Linked DNA regions of Homo sapiens. The protein of the gene in region 3 interacts with the protein of the main gene of each other region in a pairwise test. Each region holds a gene or a part of one and is shown on either strand. Other genes may lie near its edges.

Evidence for each region. The genes of interacting proteins can lie anywhere in the genome.
Region 1: the proteins of SRSF3 (region 3) and CHD1 interact in a two-hybrid assay, tested with the Homo sapiens proteins (one study listed by BioGRID).
Region 2: the proteins of SRSF3 (region 3) and SCAF11 interact in a two-hybrid assay, tested with the Homo sapiens proteins (one study listed by BioGRID).

Annotation. Positions count from the first base shown.
Region 1 is NC_000005.10:98,926,003-98,933,047, forward strand, and holds the start of CHD1 (chromodomain-helicase-DNA-binding protein 1), read right to left. Parts: upstream 3,006-7,045; 5' UTR 2,537-3,005; intron 2,530-2,536; exon of another isoform or gene 2,238-2,529; intron 533-2,237; 5' UTR 385-532; coding exon 332-384; intron 1-331. UniProt on the Homo sapiens protein: ATP-dependent chromatin-remodeling factor which functions as substrate recognition component of the transcription regulatory histone acetylation (HAT) complex SAGA. Regulates polymerase II transcription.
Region 2 is NC_000012.12:45,987,570-45,995,579, reverse strand, and holds the start of SCAF11 (protein SCAF11), read left to right. Parts: upstream 1-5,005; 5' UTR 5,006-5,227; intron 5,228-8,010. UniProt on the Homo sapiens protein: Plays a role in pre-mRNA alternative splicing by regulating spliceosome assembly.
Region 3 is NC_000006.12:36,597,362-36,604,361, reverse strand, and holds part of SRSF3 (serine/arginine-rich splicing factor 3), read right to left. Parts: intron 5,514-7,000; coding exon 5,379-5,513; intron 4,542-5,378; exon of another isoform or gene 4,086-4,541; intron 3,211-4,085; coding exon 3,172-3,210; intron 2,655-3,171; coding exon 2,568-2,654; intron 2,401-2,567; coding exon 2,373-2,400; 3' UTR 1-2,372. UniProt on the Homo sapiens protein: Splicing factor, which binds the consensus motif 5'-C[ACU][AU]C[ACU][AC]C-3' within pre-mRNA and promotes specific exons inclusion during alternative splicing.

The DNA of each region.
Region 1 (7,045 bases), on a different chromosome or scaffold from region 3:
AATTTCACTAACAGTCAAAACAATTTAAATCTATTATACATGCTCCAGCTTAATTATTAGCTCAAATATAAACTTCCAAATAGATTTAAGTAAACAAAAACTTTCTATATTTAAGATCTACTGTGTATCTGAATGAAAAATATAATTAAAACCTGTATTATGAAAAAAGGTTCGTATATCAGAATTTTTTTAGTATTTGGATAGCTAAGAGGAAAACCTGAAAACTCTGCTACCTATGAGGAAAACTAAATAACAACAATAACAATAAAGAAAAAAGTCAAGTTTTCAACTCTCTTCATAGTAAACAATTGATAACAAAGTGCTTACTTACCTTGATTCTCCACTACTGTTTCTAACACTTTCTTCATCACTGTGTCCATTCATTGTAAATTATTATCAAGAAGTTTTAAAGTAAAATATAAATCTTCCCAGTTTAAAAGATGAATATAAATACTGACTCCTTGAATATAAAAATTCACAGATGAATTTTCTTCAACAGTCACAGGTTTTCTGGGACTCTCCTTTGATTCACCTAAAGAAAATATATTAATAAATTAACAAAATTTCCTGCAGAAAAAAGGTAAATTAAGCCCTGTCTAAAACGTATAAATCTACGTAGGCCAATTAGACTACAGCTGTTAAGGAAGAAGTGGGGGCCTTTTATTAAATACTTAAAATATCTAGACTTGTAATAACTACACTCCTGACTGCTAACTAGAATTTAGTATGCTACTGCTAATATACTTCGGACAGAAAAAATTAAAATATTTGTGGAGTGAAAGGATTTTTAGAGACTAACTGCAACTAACAATGTTTTTATAGACTCCTAAAGCAAGGTGATACGATGTAACATATGCATACATCCCAAGAGTAGATAACGGAGTCTTATTAGATAACTTGGTCGAATAAATGAAGTGGGGGGGGGGGTGGGAGGAGGTTACCTTTAATCAAGCCCTCACTCCTATCACCAAGAACTTCATACACTTGAGTGAGAAAGTTCTGAAAACGCTCCCATGGGAGGAACAGGCAAATAAAAGATACCATATACTCTCAACAAAAATGCATAGCTCAAAATAAATGTGTTATTTAACAGGTAAACGGATAGTGGGATGATAACATTTAAATAATACTTAACCAGTTTGCACTTGGTTTTTATTTTGTGAAAAAAATTGAAAAGGTAATAGAATATACACTATATCTGATTTTTTACGTAAAAAATTTGGGGCAAGAATAATGAACCAAGACACACCATTTCCACCTTTAAAGATTTCAGTACAACACTGAAGAATCACCTACAAGCCATCCACGAATAAACAAAGGAGATCTCTGGCAGGGGAGGGAGAGGAAGAAGCGGGGGAAGGAGACGTCAGATCCTTCCCCAGCCAGAAAGTACCGAGACAGCCAACTGAGAGCAGAGCTGTCCTCCGACCTCAGCAAAGAGAATTCACTCCTACGATTATTTCCATTCCACAAGAGAGGGAGGGAAACAGATTGTTACCAACTCAATGATAGCAAAGTCTGCATCTGGATCAGGATGTTAATTCTCTAGACTACTGTCCAGTAGACTCTGCAAGAACAGGTTATCTAAAAAGTAACCGTTCTACTCAACATTTATTCCTAATGTTAAATATTAATCTCAACCCTAGTCAAAGTGCCTTACTGAACAATTAAGTCTTAAAAAATCTAAGTATGTTAACAAACTGCCTTTCCCGTTTCTTCCTTTAAAAAGTTCACTCCCCTTTTCGTTCTTTCCTTTTCACCTTCCTTTCGTCCCTCAAAATGGCTTTCTCTGTACATTTTAACTTCCTTTCCCCTCCATCTCCCTTATCCGAATAAGTCCTCTGAGACCCTTTTCACAACCCTGAGTTCTGAAGCTCCAAGCGCACACAGCGCTGTGTCCTCTCAAGCGTCTCCACAATGACTACCCTAAGTTATTAAACCTCTTCAATCCTCTGTCTTTTAGCAGTTGCTTTGCTCCTGCTAAGTTTTTAAAGCGGCACTCGAAAGAGGTTTGGAAACCATCCTCACTCATCCATCCAGCGCGCTCCAATCAGCCTCCCTCGCGGACCTGCCCCCCTCTCCCAGGGCCTCCATCCCGGTCCAGGAGTCCCTCTTCCCGCCTCAAACTTCCCGCAGACCCGCCCCGCGCCCTCCCAGGCTCGCCCGAGCCGCCGCCCCCTCCCCCTCCCGCCGCTCCCCACGTGCTGGGAGCCCGGGTCGCGGCAGGACCCACGCACCGGCTAAGTGCTAGCCATTCGCGGGTCTCCTCTCGCGGCCCGGTCGGCACCAAGCCGAAGAGGCCGGGGCAGGGCCGCCGGGCCGGCGCAAGGATGCGTTCTGCGGCCCCGGCCTGTACTCGCCGCTCACACGCCCCCTGCGCGCCAGGCCCGTACACCGCCACCGGCACTCACAGAGCCACCCGGCCTTCACCCGGCCGCTGGGCCGCCGCCTGGGCACCGCGCCGCGCCCGCCCTCCGCCCGGCCGGTTCCTGTCCTCTCCGCCACATCCTGACCCGCCCGCCGCCCCCTTTCTTACCGGCGGGCTTGGCGGGGCGGAGGGAGCCGACTCGGGTGGACGGCCTCCCCCGCGCCCAGGCCCGGGATCTCCGCCGCCCAGTCCTAGGGCTCCGGCGTCTCGGGGTAAGCAAGAGTCCGTGCGGGGGAGGGGGAAGGGGACAGACGCGGAGGGGAAGGGGAAGCCCCGGTCCGCAGCACCAACGCGCGATCCCCTGCGGAGTGGAGCTAACAATTCATTATTGAAGCACCAAGGGCGAGGGCAGCAAGAGCTATAAGTAACCAGTCGTCGCCGCCGCCGCCGCCGCCGTCGCGCGCGCGCTCCCGCTCCCTCCGCTTATCTGCCCCCGGCAGCCGCCATGACGCCGAGAAAGCAAGCGAGCGCAACCGTCTCCGTCGTAGCCGCCGCCGCCACCGAGGTCGCCGTCGCCTCCGCCTCCCGCGCGACGTAAGCGCCTCTGCTCACTCCCCTTCCCGACAGAGCGCGAGGCGGGCGGGCGCGCGCACGCCGAAGCCTTTCTGCTCGCGCGCGGGAGGCGGGAGGGACTACGTTGAAGGGTCGTGGGCGTAGGAAAAAAGCGATTGGTGCTGGGGCGGGGCGGGGGGGGCGAGTGCGCGCACGCGCACGAATGGGAGTGCGCACGGCGGATGCGCAGAGGCTGTCGGACTCTGACTGCGCGGAGACCGCTGGACTCTGGTCGCGGCCTTAGTCCGCTGATCCTCGCTTGGGTGCCCGCCCTTAGCGGCCCGGCGTTGAATTCCGGGAAGTGGGAGCTTCAGGCTCGCTCCGTGCGGGTATGGGCGCTAATGTCACTTGGGATGGTTGCGCAAGGACATCGCGGCGGACACTGACAAGGAACCGGGGAGGAACGGGGGTGGGGAGAGACTGCGATGGGACTCGGGAAGCCGGGAAGGGCCGCGCTGAATAAGCCTAAGGGGCCGGGTCGCAAGGAGTGTCGGGTAGCACAGGCCTCGGCTCAGTCGGAGCGCCAGGCCTCAGGGTCCGGGCGGGGGCTGCTGCGTCACACCAGGCAGCCTGGGAACGCAACTGTTGGGCAACCGTGGTGGCCTCTCGCCACCTCTTACGCTTGGGCGATCTGCGATTGACGCATCCTGGGAGCTGATGTCCCGCACGGGCGGGGCGCCGGAGGAGGAGAGAAAATAGAGACCCGGTTGTTGACAGCCTGTGATGCCGCTTGATTCATGTGTGGGTGGCCTGGTTTAGAAATGTACCACCCTTCCTTTCTAGGTTCCTCCCCGGAGGGCGGGGTGACGGGTGCGGCGCCGAATCGCAACAAAAAACGCTGCTCGAGGGATGTTAGTAACTGTCTCAGCTTAAGTTGCTGCCTTTTAGCTTACAGTTTGTATCGTAACTGTAATTGTGGATCTTAGTTAAATCCCTTCAGTGTGTTGGAAACATATTTTTAAGTGTATTTTTGAAACATACTTAGAGCATTTTGAAATGCTTTTTTGAAAGCGTTTTTTAAATCAAAATTCTGTTACACTTTATTTTTTTCAGTCTGCAGATGAACTTGACTCACTCAAGGTTAATGATTTTTGTTTTTTATTTATGTTTGTAGAGGCGGGGTTTTGTCATGTTGCTAGGTTGGTGTTGAACTCCTGAGCTCGAGCGATCCACCTGCCACTGCCTTCCAAAGTGCTGGAATTACAGGCGTGAGCCACGGCGCCCGGTGGCCGAGGTTAATAATAATTAAAAGTTTCTAATCCCATTGTTCAGTTATTTGATTTGGTGTAAAGGCGCACTTTCCAAGTCAGATGAGTTTGTGGTAACATACATTCCCCAAATAATTATTTTTCCCTTGTGGGAAATATTCCAGTTTTAGGCTACCAGCTGTTTAAACAGTTTGGTTCAAATCCTTCAAAAAAATCTCAAAACATAACTCCACATATGTATTTACTACATATTGAAGGGTGTATTCACTTGGAGAAGTAGGAGAAAGCAAACAGATGCCAATGGCCTTTTTGAAAACATGTATCTATCAGCAATAATTGAATAGCAAAACGAAGTGGAACACTACCATCCTTTGCAATATTAGATAGTTTTAATACTGGGTTGTGAGGAATGAAAAGATCATACAAATCGTCATTTCTGAAGTCATTTCTGAAGTCGTCATTTCTGAACTGAGTGCTAATTTTTCATATTAAGCTTTATGTTAATATCCTTAATGAGAGGAACTTCCTGTGCCCGTAATTTCTCCAGAGAAACTATTAACATACACAGAATGTTGTAATCAGAAGTATAGTTCAGTTAATAAAGTCCTCAATTACAACTCTGACATTTTGTCATTGTCTTATGAAAAGAATTACTGTATATACAGTCTATTTTACGTTTTCCGGAAGCACGTCAGGCAGGTTTTTTGTTTTTTTACTACTAATTGTGCCATTGAATATGCTATTCTGTCGTATTGTGCCATCAAACATGCTATTCGAAAAAAGATCTTGCCCAATTTGTAATAAAATATTGAACATTGGAGATTTAGATTTCGAGTAAAATCATACTTTATTGCTTTGCAGAAGTACACAGTAGGTGGAAAATTGCAACAATCTTGCCAGTTCATTTTTTAAAAAGCGTGTAGGTAATCCAAAGATACCTTTTTGATGATTTGTTATCAACATAGTTAAATTTGCAGTGTCACTTTATTTGAATAAACTAGCTTTATCTCTACTTAGTGGTACTAAAACAATAGCCAAACAGTTGATAATCTCAACACATGACTAACGAAAAATTCCACATAATTAACATTAACCAGGAGGTTTTTGTTACTATTTAATTTCTCATTTTTAAAATTTCATATTCTTTGGAAAGAATATTACTTTTCCGGAATCTAAGACAGCATTTTGTGGGTCCTTAATTGTGATATGCTTTACTAGGTAAAGTACTAAATGGGTATCCTTAGGTGGGGATAGGCTGGGAACCACATATCCAGAATTGTGAAATATATAACATAAACAGGATAACTTGCTCCTTTGTTAGCTTTTTGGATGCCAGGGTTAAGATTTTAATTCCATAATTATGTCCTTGTTGCCTGGAGGATTTGCATATGAGAAACCACAAAAACAATCGGGACATTATTAAAATACCCTAGAATCTCAACCTGTGACAGTATTTCCCATGTCCTTGCAAAACCAGAGGAAGTCTTTCCAATATGATTCTTAAATTTACAAAGTCCTCTGAATAGAAACCATGAAATCCTAAGTCATCTTCTAGTGAAGATTTGCTGTACATTTTCTGTTTTCCTAATAAGAAATTAGAGGAGTTTAGTTCCCAGTGTTGGGCAAGGGATAGGACTCAGTCACCTGGAAAGTTCTTTTGTAACTACACGTGCCTGACACTCCTATTCTTCCCCTCTGCTGATATGCAGAATTTCTAGGTTCTAGGTAGTATTTGGGAAGTTTCCCAGATTATTCTGATATCTACCAGCGGCTCATCCACCTTCTTTATGGTCACTGTATTTGGGGATTTTGAATGATAAATTCTTGAATCACTAAAAGCTAAATTTCAAACAGAAAATTGTTAGAGATGATACTAAGAGGCAAGTATGTATAAAATCTAATAGGCATTGAAGAAGATACAAAGATTCCATCCTCTACTGAAAAATTAAGTGTGCACGCAGAGTAAGAAAGAAGGTTAAGTAGCCAACCTCAAAAATATTTAAAAATTATTGCATTGATGCTGTATCACTCATTTCCTTGCCCAGATTCTTTTTTTTTTTTTTTTTTTTTGAGACAGAGTCTCACTTTGTCACCCAGGCTGGAGTGCAGTGGTGCTATCTCATTTCACTGCAATCTCCGCTTTCTGGGTTCAAGTGATTCTCATGCCTCAGCCTTCCAAGTAGCTGGGACTACAGGCACGCGCCACCACACCCAGCTAATTTTGTGTACTTTTAGTAGAGACTGGGTTTCACCATGTTGGCAAGGCTGGTGTCAAACTCCTGACCTCAGGTGATCTGCCTGCTTCAGCCTCCCAAAGTGCTGGGATTACAGGTGTGAGCCACCATGCCCAGCCCTTGCCCAGATTCTTTATTCACTGCTGTCCAAATACTGTTGGTCCTCTGTACCTGCAGGGATTTGCAGGTACAGAGGCTCAACTATAAGGGACTTGAGCATCCCCAGGTTTTGGTAAATGGGGGTCCTGGAACTAATTCTCTGCAGATACTGAGGGACAAACGGTACCACTCATTTTAATGCAGAAATTTTGTATTCATCCTTTCTTTTTAACTCCCACTACCGGGCTTAGTTTAGGCCTCTATTTTCTCTATCTTTCCCTTCAGCTTATCCTTTAGGTTTCCTTCAAACTTGAAATCTAACTAAATCAGTCCCCTGTTATATACCACATATATTTGTAAACTAAACATATATGAAGATGTATGTACATATCATATATTCCTAGTATTTTAGTTACTTAATTTTTTCACAGACTAATCTCAGTATTGCCTCTCATCATTCCTAATGGACACTTGGTACTCTAGACACTTCTTCAGGTCACTGGAAAGGTATCTCTCATTGTAAG
Region 2 (8,010 bases), on a different chromosome or scaffold from region 3:
AATTATGGTACATTAATTCTACATAATATTATGCAGCTAGTTGAAAGAATGAGCTATTTATAATTAACTGCTGAGTTAGAAAGAGTTGAAGAAAAATATATATGGCGTGATTATTTGTAAATATACAAATGAAAACTTCCAAGTGTTTTAAAACATTAGAATAAGTATTGAGAGAAACTTCAATCTTTAACATTGGTTTTGTCTAGGACTGGGATACGGAGAAGAAAACAGTCTTTTTCTTTATTTACTTCTGAGTATATTTTACATACTTCTGTGTTATTTAAATTGTTAAAATGAATGCTTATTACCTTTAAAAAGAGTAAATATAAACTGAAATGAAGAAGTAGTCTTAGAATTTGAACTATTTTTAGATATGAGGCAAAAAGAACTAATAGGATATATAGACACATGAGGGGGGCTTTATTAGGGGAATTGGCTCATGTGATTATGGAGGCTAACAAGTCCCACAACAGGCTATTTGCAAGCTGGAGATGCTGGTATGCTGGGAGTGTGGTTCAGTCCAAGTCTGAAGACCTGATGGCAGGGGTGCTGGTGTTAAGCACTAGAATCCAAAGGCCAGAGAGCTTGGTATTTTGATGTCCACGGCCAGGAGAAGAGTGTATCCCAGTTCCAGAAGACAGAGACTGTTTTTGTTCTACCCAGGCTCCCAGCTGATTGGATAGTGCCTGCCCACTTTGAGGGCGGATCCTCCCCTTGTAGTCCACTCAGACTCACATGCCAATCTCCTCTGTAAACACCCTCACTGACATACCCCAAAATAATGTTTTACCAGTTCTCTAGGTATTCCTAATCCAGTCAAGTTGACATCTAAAATTAATCATCACAGTTTCCTTTCTATTCTCTCCTTCTTTTATTCCATCTCCCTCCCCAGGCTTTGTTTTTATTATTTTATATTCTTTTTATATTTATATTCTTCCTTTGTTTTTTGTTTTCTATTTTCTTTCAAGGAATGCAACTTTGTCTTTGTACATATTTGAAACCACTATACTGTCTGTGAGACACTGTATTCATTTATATACAAGCTCAAAGCACCTCCCAAATAGATGTCCAATTAATTGTTGCTGAAATAAATTTAATTCCACATGGAAAATAATTGGATAGTATCATCCTGATTAAAATACTTCATAGTTGTGACATGAAATAACTATTCTTATTATTATTATTGGCGACAGGGTCTTAGTCTGTTGCCCAGCCTGGAGTGAGGTGGCATGATCATGGTTCACTGCAGCCTCAACCTCCTGGGCTCAAACGATTCTCCCACCTCAGCCTCCCAAGTAGATGGACTACAGGTGTGTGCCACCATGCCCAGCCACCACTGGTTTTTAAAAAAATTCCTGCAAACTATTTTTTCCTCACGTGGATATTGTATATTTGGTCATGTTTTCCTTACATGAATTTTAAAATTTACATCACCCCTTTTTGTTGAGACAGGGTCTCGCTCTGTCACCCAGGCTGGAGTGTGGTGGTGTGATCACAGCTCACTGCATCCCTGACCTCCCAGGCTCAAGCAATCCTTCCAGTGCACGCCACCACAGCTGGTCATTTTTTTAATTTTATTTTTAGTAGAAACTAGGTCTCACTATGTTGCTCAGACAGTATGTCCTTTGAATTCACACATTTTTATTGCCATAAAAATGCCAGAGATCATTAAAATAAAAATGTCCTCTTATAGAAACTAAAGACCAAAAAGTTAGGTGATTTATTCAAAACTGAAAAGGTGTTAAGTGACAGTATTAGAACCATGTTTTTCTTTTTTTTCTTTTTCTTTTTTTTTTTTTTTGAGATGGAGTCTTACTCTGTCACCCAGGCTGGAGTGCAGTAGCGCCATCTCGGCTCACTGCAACCTCCGCCTCCCAGGTTCAAGTGATTCTCCTGCCTCAGCCTCCTGAGTAGCTAGTAGCTGGGATTACAGGCACATGCCACCATGCGGGCTAATTTTTGTATTTTCAGTAGAGATGGGGTTTCACCATGTTGGCCAGTCTGGTCTCGAACTCCTGACCTTAAGTGATCCAACCACCTCAGCCTCCCAAAGTGCTGGAATTACAAGCATGAGCCACCATGCCTGGCCAGAACCATGTTTTTCAATCCAGTATATTTACAGCATGATTTCCTCCCTTAATTTGAACTTGATATTGTATTCTATTTATAAGTTAAATTAAAATAGCAGTTATTTCTGAAAAAGCTCCATCAAAATCAATACGTTGATTACCCATTTTTAAACGTGCCACTGTGGGTTTCTGTTGCTATGTGACAGGACTGATATTTTAAGTGCCTGGTAAAGTGCAACACACCAAGTGGACATTCAGTTTAAGGCTGTTTTATGATGCATATCATTTGTGCTTTTTACAGTTAAAATCAAATCTAAAATGTTGACAATGATGGTTCATATATCAACTTTACTCCTCCATTTTATAGCCCATCTTTTATTGATTTAGAACTCTGTACCTCTTTATTATATTGTAAATTTAAAAAATATGAAAACATCAGAGAGAATAATAAATCTTTACATCCAAACATAATAAGGAGGATGCTGCATATACAGAAATACACATGAACTTTTCTCTGGAAAGAATGGCCTATTACAAACCACCACTCTCTTCTATTTGCACATGAAGGTAGAAACCACAGTGGCATTAAGAGCATTTTTCCTTAAGACATGCTCACATGATATCTAGGAGGCCAACAGTAAGAACGTGAAAACTTAATTCTCTGCTAGGAAACAAATACATCAAAAGATCTGGTATTTTTAGTTTTGATGAAACTATACTGTTATTATCAATTTAAAATAGTTTTCTATTTGGCAGATTTTATCATTTGGGCTTAAATTTTGAGAAAAAACACTTTCCTAAAACAAAACTGAGATTTTTAAAAATATATTTAGATTTTAAATATATATAGATTTTTTAAAATATAAAACATACACAGAAGCATGTTGCACCAGGAGTCCATATCAGGAGTTACACTCTCTAGAGTGAATCCTAGAGATTGTATACATAAAAAAGCTACACCCTTATTCTGTTGGATGGCTCATAAATGTTGATCTGGTTATAGCTTTCCACACTAATTTTCACTATTTCTCTTAACAATCATCCTTTATAATCATTCTTTATATCCAAATAGTATATATCCTTTACTATTTGCTCTGATTTTGACAGGGAAAGGTCCTTCATAAGAATTTTGTTGTTCCATCAGAAGAAAGCATTTTAACGCCTCTAGCTCATTTTCCCCTCAAATATCCCAAATACAGTAAAGCCACCTAAATTCCCAAACCCCATATCAAAAACAGTACACTGAAAAACTCCAAAGACTTTGACAGCGACAAGACCGCCATTCATGTGTTCCTTCAGCAAGTGCCAGACGCTGTTATGAAAGTGATAAGACACTGTCCCAATCCTCACAGTGTGAGACAGTGAGCAGACTCAACAGAATGCATAGGATGAAAGTGCCAGAAAAGCGACGTCCTCAGGGCGGGAGCAGGGGACGCCGCAACGTAGTCTGCGAGAATGCAGGAAGGCGGCAGTGAAGCGGTCGGTCGGCGGGGCCGCGGCAAAGTGGGGAGGAAACTCATCCCGGGCAGGCGTCAGGGTGGCTGGAGAGCGCAGCACGCGCGAACAGAACGGGGGCAGGCGACAGGAAAACGTGTGAGCGCGCGGCTGAAAGCGACTGGGACCTGGGTGAGCCGCGCGCGGGGAGCAGAGCTTAGTCCTGCGGGAGCCGCAAGCAGGACAAGGGCGTGGGTGGGAGGACTGGAAGGTCAGCTGGTAGATGGGGGACACTGAGGGCAGGCAGAGCAACCGGAAGCTTGCTGCAGTCGACGAGAAGAGAAACTAGGAGGTTAAATAATCAGTGACTTTGAAAAAGTCAAAATACCTCCGAGGTAAAACAAAACATTTAACAACCCGCCGGGGGAAAAAGTGGAGGATGGCACACACGTCACTATCTAACCACAACGCGGAGGCCTTTTAAGTAAATAATGATAAAGTTTTTGTTGTTGTTTGAGACAGGGTCTCGCTCTGTCGCCCAGGCTGGAGTGCAGTGGAACGATCTCGGCTCACTGCAACCTCCGCCTCCCGGGTTCAAGCGATTCTCCCACCTCATCTTCCCGAGGAGCTGGGACCGCAGGTGCGCGCCACCACGGCCGGTTAATTTTATTTTTTGTAGAAACGAGATCTTAATACGTCGCTCAAGCTGGTCTCGAACTGCTGAGCTCAAGCGATCCGCCAGCCTCGGCCTCCCAAAGCGCTGGGATTACCGGCGTGAGCCACCGCGCACCTGGCCCAAATTTAATTTTGTGATGTGGGGTTAAGACATGGGAAAGCCCCTAGGCTCGGGGAGTCAGGCGGGAAAGCTCTCCCCCTGGCATCTAAAAAAATGCCCACCAGAAAGGAGGAAAGGTGGGCTTCCAAATTGCCGACTCTTCACTCCACAGGCTGCATTTCAGGTGGGCAGCGCAGCCAGGTGAACACTCAATCCACCGCAAACATGCGGACACTCTTTTCAATATCAGATTACCATAAAGATAAGGAGCACACCCTGCGCAAAATCCTTCCTGTCCAGTTCCCTTAAAGCCTCTTTCATTGTCCTCCGCGACGCAGCCTGTAAAACTGCCAAAGGAGGGCAGAGGCCAAAGTCCACGCGCTGCGCATGCGCACCATCCGCAGTGTGGGCGAAGGGCGGTGCTGGAAGGACGTTTCCCAGAAGGCCCCTCCAGCGCAGCTGCCCTTCCTCCCGCTCACAGGCCGCGTGACGTGACTCCACCCACCACGCTTCTCGGTCTCAAACAGCAGTTTGCCAGCGCCCCCCTGCGGCCCAACTGGGTACTACGAACATGCACTCAGGGCCAGAGCGAGCGAGTAAGCAGAATGTGGCGAGTCCGGCTGCCGCCGTCGTCACCTTAGCGCGCCGACAGCGAGGGAAGGGAGGAGGAGGGAGACGCGCAGGGAGGGGAGGGGAGGGAGGAGGCTAGACAAGGCGGGGGAAGGGGGAGTAGCGGTGGCTTAAGCCGCGCGGAGCAGCGCAACCTGGGTCGCTCCCTGCTTCGCCGCCGCCTCCGGACCGAGCCAGCGGAGTCAGTGTCCTAGAGACCCTGTAACACCACAAAGCGGACGAAGGAGTCCATGTTGGGGAACTTGGCAGCGGAGTGACTGGGACCTGGGAACCTACTGTGGGGCCGCGGCCGGACCGAGCGCCTCGACCTCGGTCTGAGGTAAACACTGGTCGACCCGCGGGGTGGATGGGCTTGGGCAGCTGTCTGGGAGAGACGAGGGTTAGCGGCCGGCGCAGAGCGCTGGAGCGGGCCTAGGGCGACGCGAGGGCTGACAAAGTTTCGGAATCTCGCGCGGCCCGTGCGACGTCGTGCGCTGGGAGGAAAGTTGGAGCTACCTCTCGAAGTGGGGGAGGCTGCGGCCGGGAGGGCCCCTTTCCCTCTCGCTGCCCCGCGAGGGAGGCTCGGCCCGGCCCTGGGCCGCCGCCGCCTCTCTGTCGCACTCTGTCCCATTTCCTCCTTGTGGCCTACGCGTCTCCCGCCGCCTTAGCTGGCGAAGCCTGTCCCCGTCCGGGTGCAGGGTCCTACGGGGGGGGGGGAAGGGGCTCCACGCCAGAACCGCCACAGACACCCTCCTCCCTGCAGTGGAAACGTGTCCTGCTGAGCTTCCGGGCGCTCCCGACCGCGGTGTCGGCTTTTCTTGGGAGACTTTGGTCGCGAGCGTCCAAGCCCGCTAGTGAAACCAAACTTTACTACGCCGTGACCTCTCGAGTGCGCGAATGGGGAAGAGCCGGCGCTTCTAAGCATCAGCCTTTTTCACTCCTTGATCTGAACTTCAAACTACTCATCCACCCCCAGTGTTTTAAATTCGCTACCTGGGCTGACAACTACGGGGCCGGGAGATATAAATTTAGCCTAATCAGTCGCCCCTTCTGAGACCTAGGAATTTTGAACCATTAAAAAGATTTCCTACAGATGGCTGGCGGTCTTGCCACCAACACGTATTTTGAAGTATTGTTTCAAAAGTAGACGCCTGATTTAGAGTACTTGATTTAGACATTCACGGATTCAAATGTTGAATTTTGAAATACTTCCAATATATTTCCGTATTGTATTACATACAGTGTCTACCAGCTGACTGTTGTTCATTCATTTTGGATTACATTTTGGCTAACATGCTACCACTGACCTAAGATACTTAAGCAAAACTGCTGAAAAATGTTTTTAATGCTTTGTGTAGTAGATGCTGATGTTAAATTTTTTTCTCCGATTTGGGAATTTTCCCCGAATTTTGGGAAAAGCATATTAATAAATGCATTATTTTTTCGTTTTAAAAGAAAAATTAATTTCTACATATCACCACCTACCTCAGCAGCAGAATATCAGGGCAGTACATTTTAAAATAACGGTTGGTTTTTGTATTTTATTAGTAATTGTATTAAAATTTTGACATGTAATCAAGTCTGTTTCTAAACAATTGCTTTCTCTTTCCTGTTTCTTTGGCAGTTGGCTTGATCATGTCACTATTTTGGTTAAAAGATGCAAGAAAAAGTTCATGGGCCTTTTGTTTTTGTTGTTTTAACTAAGCAAGAGAAATGAAATCTTGAAACTGTCTTTGGATTTCTTTTGTTTTATATTATCCTATCGGATAATCTGAATTTATATTTTTTATGCAATGTGAGTTTTTTAAAAACAGTTCTTAGGGTAGCTGCATTTTAGCTATAATATTTTTTGGTGCTTGCAGATATTTTAACAGTCATTCAGTTTTTCACATTCAGATAGTGAACTTTTTGCCTGAGAGTTTGAGTACATTTTAAGATTTCACTGGGGTAAAATTTGAATGTTTGCTTACTGTAAGTATACTCATGCTTTAAAGACATTCTTCAGTATAAAGGGGAAGAAAACTGTAGAAGAAAATTTAAAGTTTCTAAATATGTTGCCAGAAAACATGTCATGGAGAAAATTTTACGGATAATTTTTTAATTTTTTCTGTTAATACCTTCATGTGGTAATAGGGCTAGTGTGTTAAGATCGAAACTTTTCAGGAGTTACTTAGCTCTCTATCGTCCTTTGGCACCAACTAGAGCTTAGACAGTTTTCTGGAAAACCTGTGCTTTTATTCAGCAGAGATAGGATGAATCAGTGCAGTTACATGATACTGTTGATTCATCATCAGTAACATCTTTTAGTAATCAGAAAATACAGTACTATACTACCCATCAACTTAATACTGAACTTTTAAAGTATATCAGAGATAGTTGTAGCACCTTAATTAAAGAGAGTAGCAGGCATAAAAGTAATAAAAAGAAAGTCAACTGTAGAATAATTTTCATTGTAACTTCCCTTTAGCAAGCCCTGCTATCACCTGCTTTTGTCTTTTAAGATGTAAATTGTACCTTGACTTACCTTGCCCAGTGAAATAAACTTAAAATCCAGATTTTTAATTATACTCTGTCCCCCAAAATAAGTTAATAACCTTGCACCTTGTCTTGCTTCTGAGCAGTAATAACTGTTAGTAGTGCTGAGTAGAGCCCAGAGTTAAAATATCCAGTATCATTCTCTTGCTATTCCCAAAACTCATCTTTGCATTGTATTTTTTTAAGTTGTGTCTATGAACTTAATGTATGAAATCCTAGTACATAGACACATAAAAATTCAATACATAACGTAAAAACACAACCACTATTTTGCTTTCAAAAATATCTTCCTAAAAAGTCACTGTGACCTTTGCTGATCTACAGTCTTTAACACTCCATAGCCAGAGTGATCCTGATAAAATGTCAGGTCATGTAACTTCTTTTCTCAAATGGCTTCCCTTCTCAGTCATAGTAAATTCCATACTCCTATGGTCTACAAGGCTCTATGATTTAAGTCTCTTCTTCCTCTCTGACTTCATCTCCTCACCCTTTCTCCAATCTCCTTTCCCCTACGCTGTTGTGGTCTTCTCTAACTACTGTGTATAAAACAACAGCCTTCCCCCGATATTTTGTATCTGTTTTTATGCT
Region 3 (7,000 bases):
AAGTGCTAGGAATTACAAGTGTGAGCCACCACATCCAGCCAGTGTCTTTGAAAACAATCAAATATAATCCTTAATGTTTCTTTACATTGTCATCAAGTATTAGTAACAGTGACTTCTAGTGAACACCTTGATCCTTAAACCACAGGTCTAAGTTCAGTTTTGTGATTCCTTTCATTTTTACACTCAACCCTGAATATGGACAAGACCGGTTAGTGTGACCTGTTATTTTAGGAATTACAACTTTAAAAATTCCTAATAGCCACAATCTAAATGTGCAATTCAAAGCTTTTAACAATTTCCATGTTCTAAAGTTTCTAAGAGTCTTGAGGTTATGCTAGGGCTCCTGGTTAAAGTAACTGCCAACTGGGACTGTATGTCACCTAAGTCAGGATAACTCCCTGGTGAAGTTACTTTTATTTCAGGTTCTGTATTATTTCTCTTAGCCATATTATACCCGTAACTGTCCTTTTTACAGAAACCCTTCCAACTTAAGAGCCTGCAAGGAAGTCATATACTGCCCAAAAATGCCCACATAAGTTGTCCATTTATAAAAAGCAATGTAATTGACATATTGCATGGCTTCCGTAACTTCTTAGCTATCTTGGCTTGTTCCTAACAGGAACAGGTTGTAGGCTATGTGAGAATACTAAAGACAAAATGCCCAATGCCAGAGCTCTCAGTAAATAAACAGGCTGTCTGAAAAGTGTCTTTCTTGAACATGCTTAACTTTAAGGCTGAACCTTCCTGACACCAATTCTCCCAAGATTTGTGTAAAAGGTGGAAATAAATAATTTGTTTAGGAACTGTATCTTAATGTATCCATTTAGCTTGAACTCTTAATGCAATGACTTATCTTTCATATTTAAGACAGTCAATACCGCATAATCCAAAACTATCTTAAGAGCATATTTAAGGAAACTAAGCCACAAGACTGTTGCATTATGATTTAATCTAATTGCACAAAAATTTGAAATTACAACACCTGCCATTTTCTAAGAGGAAGGTTATGCATGCCTCCATATTCAATTCTGCACTGTTACATTTGAACCATATTGTGAACTTTTACATCATGATGGATCAGCTTAGAATTCCCATGCAACACCTCAAATTATAAAATGGAAGCAATTTTTAGACCTGTGGAAAGTTTTCATGCTAAAGATAAAAGCCATTTGTTAATGGGCAACTTACTTTGTGTTTAAGAACCAGGTTGCTGCTATACTTTAAAATGTTGGTCACTAAATATTATGGACCCTGAACTGGCTTCTATGCCTAAAAAAAAAAAAAATGGGTTAACTATCACTTAGGTGACATCTATATTTCCTTCACTTCAGAAGACTAATCCATAGTGCCTCTCAGCTGTTTCTTATAAAATAAGAATCGTGTAACCAACTGCTTCCCATGGGATAAGAACAATGGTAACAGTGGGTTCAACTGACTATACACAATTATGCTAATATTTTATTAATTCAAAAGCACTTTACAAGAAAATATAAGTATGGCTTCCAATAGGAATGTTATACCTGGACTTGGTACCAAGCTCACAGATTTGAGTTTGCAAGGAAAAACAGGCTTTCAAGTTAAAGAACAATTTGTAACCAAAACTTTAATCCCAAGGATTCTCACAAAACATATTACAAATGACAGCATGAAAAAAAAATCTTGCACAGTAACTCAAAGTTCGGCTCTACAATGTACCCTTAAACTGGCAGGACATTTTTGAAATCACAAATTTGCACATAAAGAATGTCACGAACAGCCATGTATCCATATACAGCAATCAAATAAGGAACTTATGACCTAAAGCAAAGGTAAACTTTCTTGAAACTTAACATTCTATACCAACTAGGCAACCTCTGCCCAGGATGAGAGTTGGATTTTTCAAAAACCTCTAATTTAATAGTGCAGCATTTCGTTTTCCCTGATGGCCTGTGTTTCACAGCAGTTTTTAAAGACTGCTTGTTCAACTATAGCTGCAGCCTATATCCCAGCTATGGAAAAAAAAGTAAATCTTAGTTCAATTTTTGCCAGTTGTTTCTGTATTTAAATTTAAAAAAAAACACACTTCCGCTGGGCAGGTTTAGAGGTTTATTATCAGTCTGTGCATAACTAAAAGTTCAAAGCAAATTCAATTTTGCTTAAGGGAACATTGTAAAGTAACAATTCTTGGTATTACATGCCTCGTATGATCCATTTCAAACCATAGAGAATTACACCTTTGTGTCACTGTTTCAAGAGACAAACAGATTTGAACAGCTAAAACATCTTAAAAATGCACCAAGCTTATGAAGTCTCAAACAAAACTTGAATTTTCTGTACATACTCCTGTCAAATGAAGTAATTTCCTGTACACCACTTCTCTTGCAAACTGTCTTCTATTTCCTTTCATTTGACCTAGATCGACTAAAAAAAAAAAAAAAAAAAGAAAACAAAACATTACATCTGTAACTTGGTGACACTTTAGTGACATATCGAAATAGAACTTTAAGGTAAAAAATTTATGGCTTAGAAGACAGGCCTTAGCATACTATGTATGCAAAGTCTTAAATACAAGTTATCAAAGATCTTACCTACGAGACCTAGAGAAGGATCGGGACGGCTTGTGATTTCTCTCCCGAGACAGCGATCTCTCTCTTCTCCTATCTCTAGAAAGGGACCTAAACAAGCAAAAAAACATTAGGACCAATGAGGTATGATAAAATTATACATAAATATTTTCTTGATCTGGCATGGTGACTCATGCCAATAATTCCAATATTTTGGGAGGCAGAGGCAGGAGGCTCACTTGAAGCCAAGAGTTTGAGAACAGATTGGACAACAAAGTGAGATCCCATCTCCACAAAAAATAAATTAGCCAGGTATGGCAGTACTTGCCTGTAGTCCAAGCTACTCAGGAGGCTGAAGAGGGAGGATCACTCCAAGGCCAGGAGTTAAAGGCTACAGTGAGCTATAATCACACCACTGCACTCCAGCCTGGGTGACAGATCCTTTTTTAAAAAATTAAATACTTTCTAAAAAGCCTTTGAAAACTCAAAGAAAGCTGACTCATCCTTACAACTTGATTCACTATTAAAGCCAAGGTTTATTCCCATTAACTAAGCCACCTGGAAAAGTTTAGGAATAGCAGAAACACTGCCATTTCTAAGAACGTAGCCAAAAAAGGTAGTCATTTACCTGCTCCGGCTGCGAGAGAAGCTTCTCCTTCTTGGAGATCTAAAAGCAGAAACAGGAAAATTAGGCTCATCATCAATTAGTATTTATGGCGTGAGGCATTTCCCAACTTTTCAATCTCACTGTTGGGCCCAGTGAATGTGCCGAAGAACTGGCACCCATCGTCCAAAAAAAAAAAAAAAAAAAAAAAAAGAAAAAAAAGAAAAGAAAAAAAAGGCACAGAAGGATTAAGAAACAAAAAGCTCAAGTGAAAAGCAGGTATTCCAACCATGGATTCACTTTAACAAAGAATGCTTCACAGCAGATCTGTCCAATGCAAAACTTCATGTCAAACTAACTTCACTACCCAAACACCACACCAAAATATAGTCCCACAAGTAGTTCCAAAAACAGTACCATAAACCAGTATTTGGAACCCATGCAAACCTGTAAGTCCATGACAAGACTTAGGTACCAGGTGGATAGTGTAATTTTGTGAAAACGCGGTAGGTGTAAATATTGATGCCATTAAGTGCTACATTAGAACTGCATTTGTGATCGTCACATTTAAGAGTGTGTTTAGGCTTACCAAAATTACCTTAGCTTGGCCCACACTTCAACCCCAAAATTTTAAATTTTGAAACTGTTAGTAAAACCATTTAAAGGTGATAGGATTCAACAAATTTTTGCCAGAAAAGCTAATCTGTTAGAGATATTAAAATTTTTAGTTTGGCATCTTGCACATGCAAATAAGTTTCACTTGAAGGCCTAGTTACATTACGAGTTCCCTATCACCCTTAAAAGTTTTTCAAGCAATATATATGTACGTTACCATTCAATTATGCACAGCCAGCCTTTGATCCAGAAAAAAGAATTACTTTAAGCCGCTTACTCCTTATTTTAACCAGCAGTAAACTGTATAAGCAGGAAAAACTTACTAGTTTTGGGTTTCAACAAGCTAGAAATGGTGAGGTGAGGCTGCCGGACTGACGGCCAGGAAGAATTTGCTGAAAAGGTTTTGCCAGATGTTGCGTTGGATTTAGTTGGTTGGCGAAGGGGGTGTTGTGGATTTTTCCTGCTTTTTTGTTAGCCGAAGGCTGCTGCTGTAGTTGTTGTGAAGACATTTGGTAAATAAACAGCTGAGCTGATTGGCCAGGAATGTGTGGGCGGTCGAGGTGGCTGCTGCCGATTTGGTTAAGGTTGGAGAGAAGGCTGAGAGAAAACAGCATGCTCGGGAACCAAAGGGCGGTGCAACCTGACGACTGGCCAGCCTGGGTCATGTGAAACGACACCAGCCAAGCTGAATGGGGCGCGCTGGTCACATGACGCTGAAAGGGCTAGTTGACTGGCTAATGCAGATTCAGAGGGTGGTGAGAAGAGACATGATGGTGACTCTGTAACGGGGTTCATTTTTATTAATAGATGGACCAAAAAGCACAAAAAAAATGAAAAACAAGCCATCAGTACAACCATCTATTAGCTAACAAATACTCTTTATTATGATGGGCAACAGTGTGCTGTTGTTTTTCAAAATAGCAAAAGGGGCAAGATTTTGAACTCCTGTCTCCTAGAAGGACTCCACTCACCTGTAAGAGGTAAATTTAGTCCTATAGAAACTATTTTGGAGGTCTGAGGAGATGTGGAGTTAGCACCCAGACAATACTGCCTGGTCCAAGAATGATGCCATTTTCAATTATAAAAAAACTGAATTTTCTCCTATTTGGGATTGAAGAACAGATGACTGGGATTACTTCTTTTTTAGCCCCCTTTATTGGTCAGTGACTTAAGTTAGTCTCAGAATGATTTCTACTTTACCAGTTGTAACATTAAAACAGCTGCCTGTTTGATAAATATTACAATTGTGCTAATAGTAGAAAACACAAATTTGTGAAGAGCTAGAGTTGAATGTAATGTTTGTCATTATGGAGCCAAGAAATGGAAAAAGGCCTAAACTGAAGTATAAGGGAAGATTTGGAAAGATGCAACTAGAAAGATGAACTAGAAGACAGATCCAAGATAGAAGTTACTGACTACCAACATGAACAGTGACCTAAAGACAAAAGCCAACACTCAGCACAACTCACATACCCCAAATTACACCCAACAAATGTTTCACAGAAACCTCCGATTCTTCCAAAGTTTAAAACCCACCAACAAACTTAAGAGAAATACCTGCTCCTACTAGCTACTCCATTACACCAATACCTCTTAACAAGCTTTCTCTCAAGTACCTGCGACGAGGTGGAGGACTCCTCCTACGATAATCATCTCGAGGGCGACGACCCCAAGAGGGAGGTGGGCCACGATTTCTACTTCTTTTTTCACCATTCGACAGTTCCACTCTTACACGGCAGCCACATAGTGTTCTGAGGGGGCAAAGATATTAAACTTAAAACAGCCTGACTTTCTGACATGCGTATTAAAGCCAAAAGTACTCTCAGTTGGCTATTCTGCAAAGAACACACCTAAGTGTCTGTGCAATTTAACATCAAATTTCTAGCTCCCTTATTTTTACTAATATAAAATGAGCTTTGGCCAGGCACGGTGGTACACGCCTGTAATCCCAACACTTTATGAGGCCGAGGCAGGCGGATCACAAGGTCAAGAGTTCGACACTATCTTGGCCAACGTGGTGAAACCCTCGCTCTACTAAAAATACAAAAAATAGCCAGGTGTGGTGGTACATGCCTGTAATCCCAGCTACTCAGGCGGCTGAGGCAGGAGAATCACTTGAACCCAGTAGGCAGAGGTTACAACGAGCCAAGATCACACCATTGCACTCCAGCCTGGGGGACAGAGCAAGACTCTGTCTTGAAAAATAAAATAAGCTTGTTTCCCAGTTTCAAATTAAAATTTCAATTAATTTCAAATTAAACAAATAGGATTTTCTAAAGTACCAATTCACAAGGAAGTCAAATTCTATTTTATCACCTAATTGTTAGAGCCAGTCTGATTACTGAGCTCAATGTTAATTTGTTAACAGTTGCAATTTAAGTGTGAAGATCCATTTATCCTTGAAAAACAAGTTCTCCTGTATCTTCATTATGATTTCTTCCCTTGAAGTCCCTGCACTTATTTCAGTTATTTACCAGGCTGTATTTATTGGTCTCCCCCTGCCCCACTCCAAGTAAAAAATCAGTTCAAGACAAGACAGAACCATTTTGGCCATTTTACAGCACCCTCTCCCCTCAACAGTCAGCACAGAAGAAATTATAGCTGTGGCCAGGTGAGGTGGCTCATGCCTGTAATCCCAGCACTCAGAGAGGCTGAGGCAGGAGGATGGCTTGAGCCCAGGAGCTTGAGGCCAGCCTGGGCAACACAGACTGTCGTCTGTATTATTTTTTAAATAATAAATATACATTTTTTTAAAAAAAGAAATTATAGCTCACAGTAGTAAAAAAAAAAAAAAAAGACCATTATTCCTCACCCTTAATACAACCAGTCATTAAATTTAGATAAGCTATCATATTTGAAGAGTGACTGGGAAGAGGTGGGCCCTGGAAAACTTTACTACAACCTGCTTGAATTGACCAACCTTTCATGCAGCTTTACAGTGAACACTCAGCTCCTTTTTCCCATTATACTTCCAAATATGAGGAAAGGGGGGTGGGGGCATGGAGGTCAATACTCAGGCCTTACTCAGCCAGCTAACAGGACACTATTAACACAAAGGGAAATAGTAAGTGATTCACTTTCTGGAGTATTTCAAACACATAAAAGTAAAGGTACAACCAACCCATGTAACCATTTTGTAAACAATTTTTTAAACAAGGATCAGTTCACAACTACTCTTAAAAATATTTGATCCTGGCTGGGCACAGTGGCTCCCACCTGTAATTCCAGCACTTTGGGA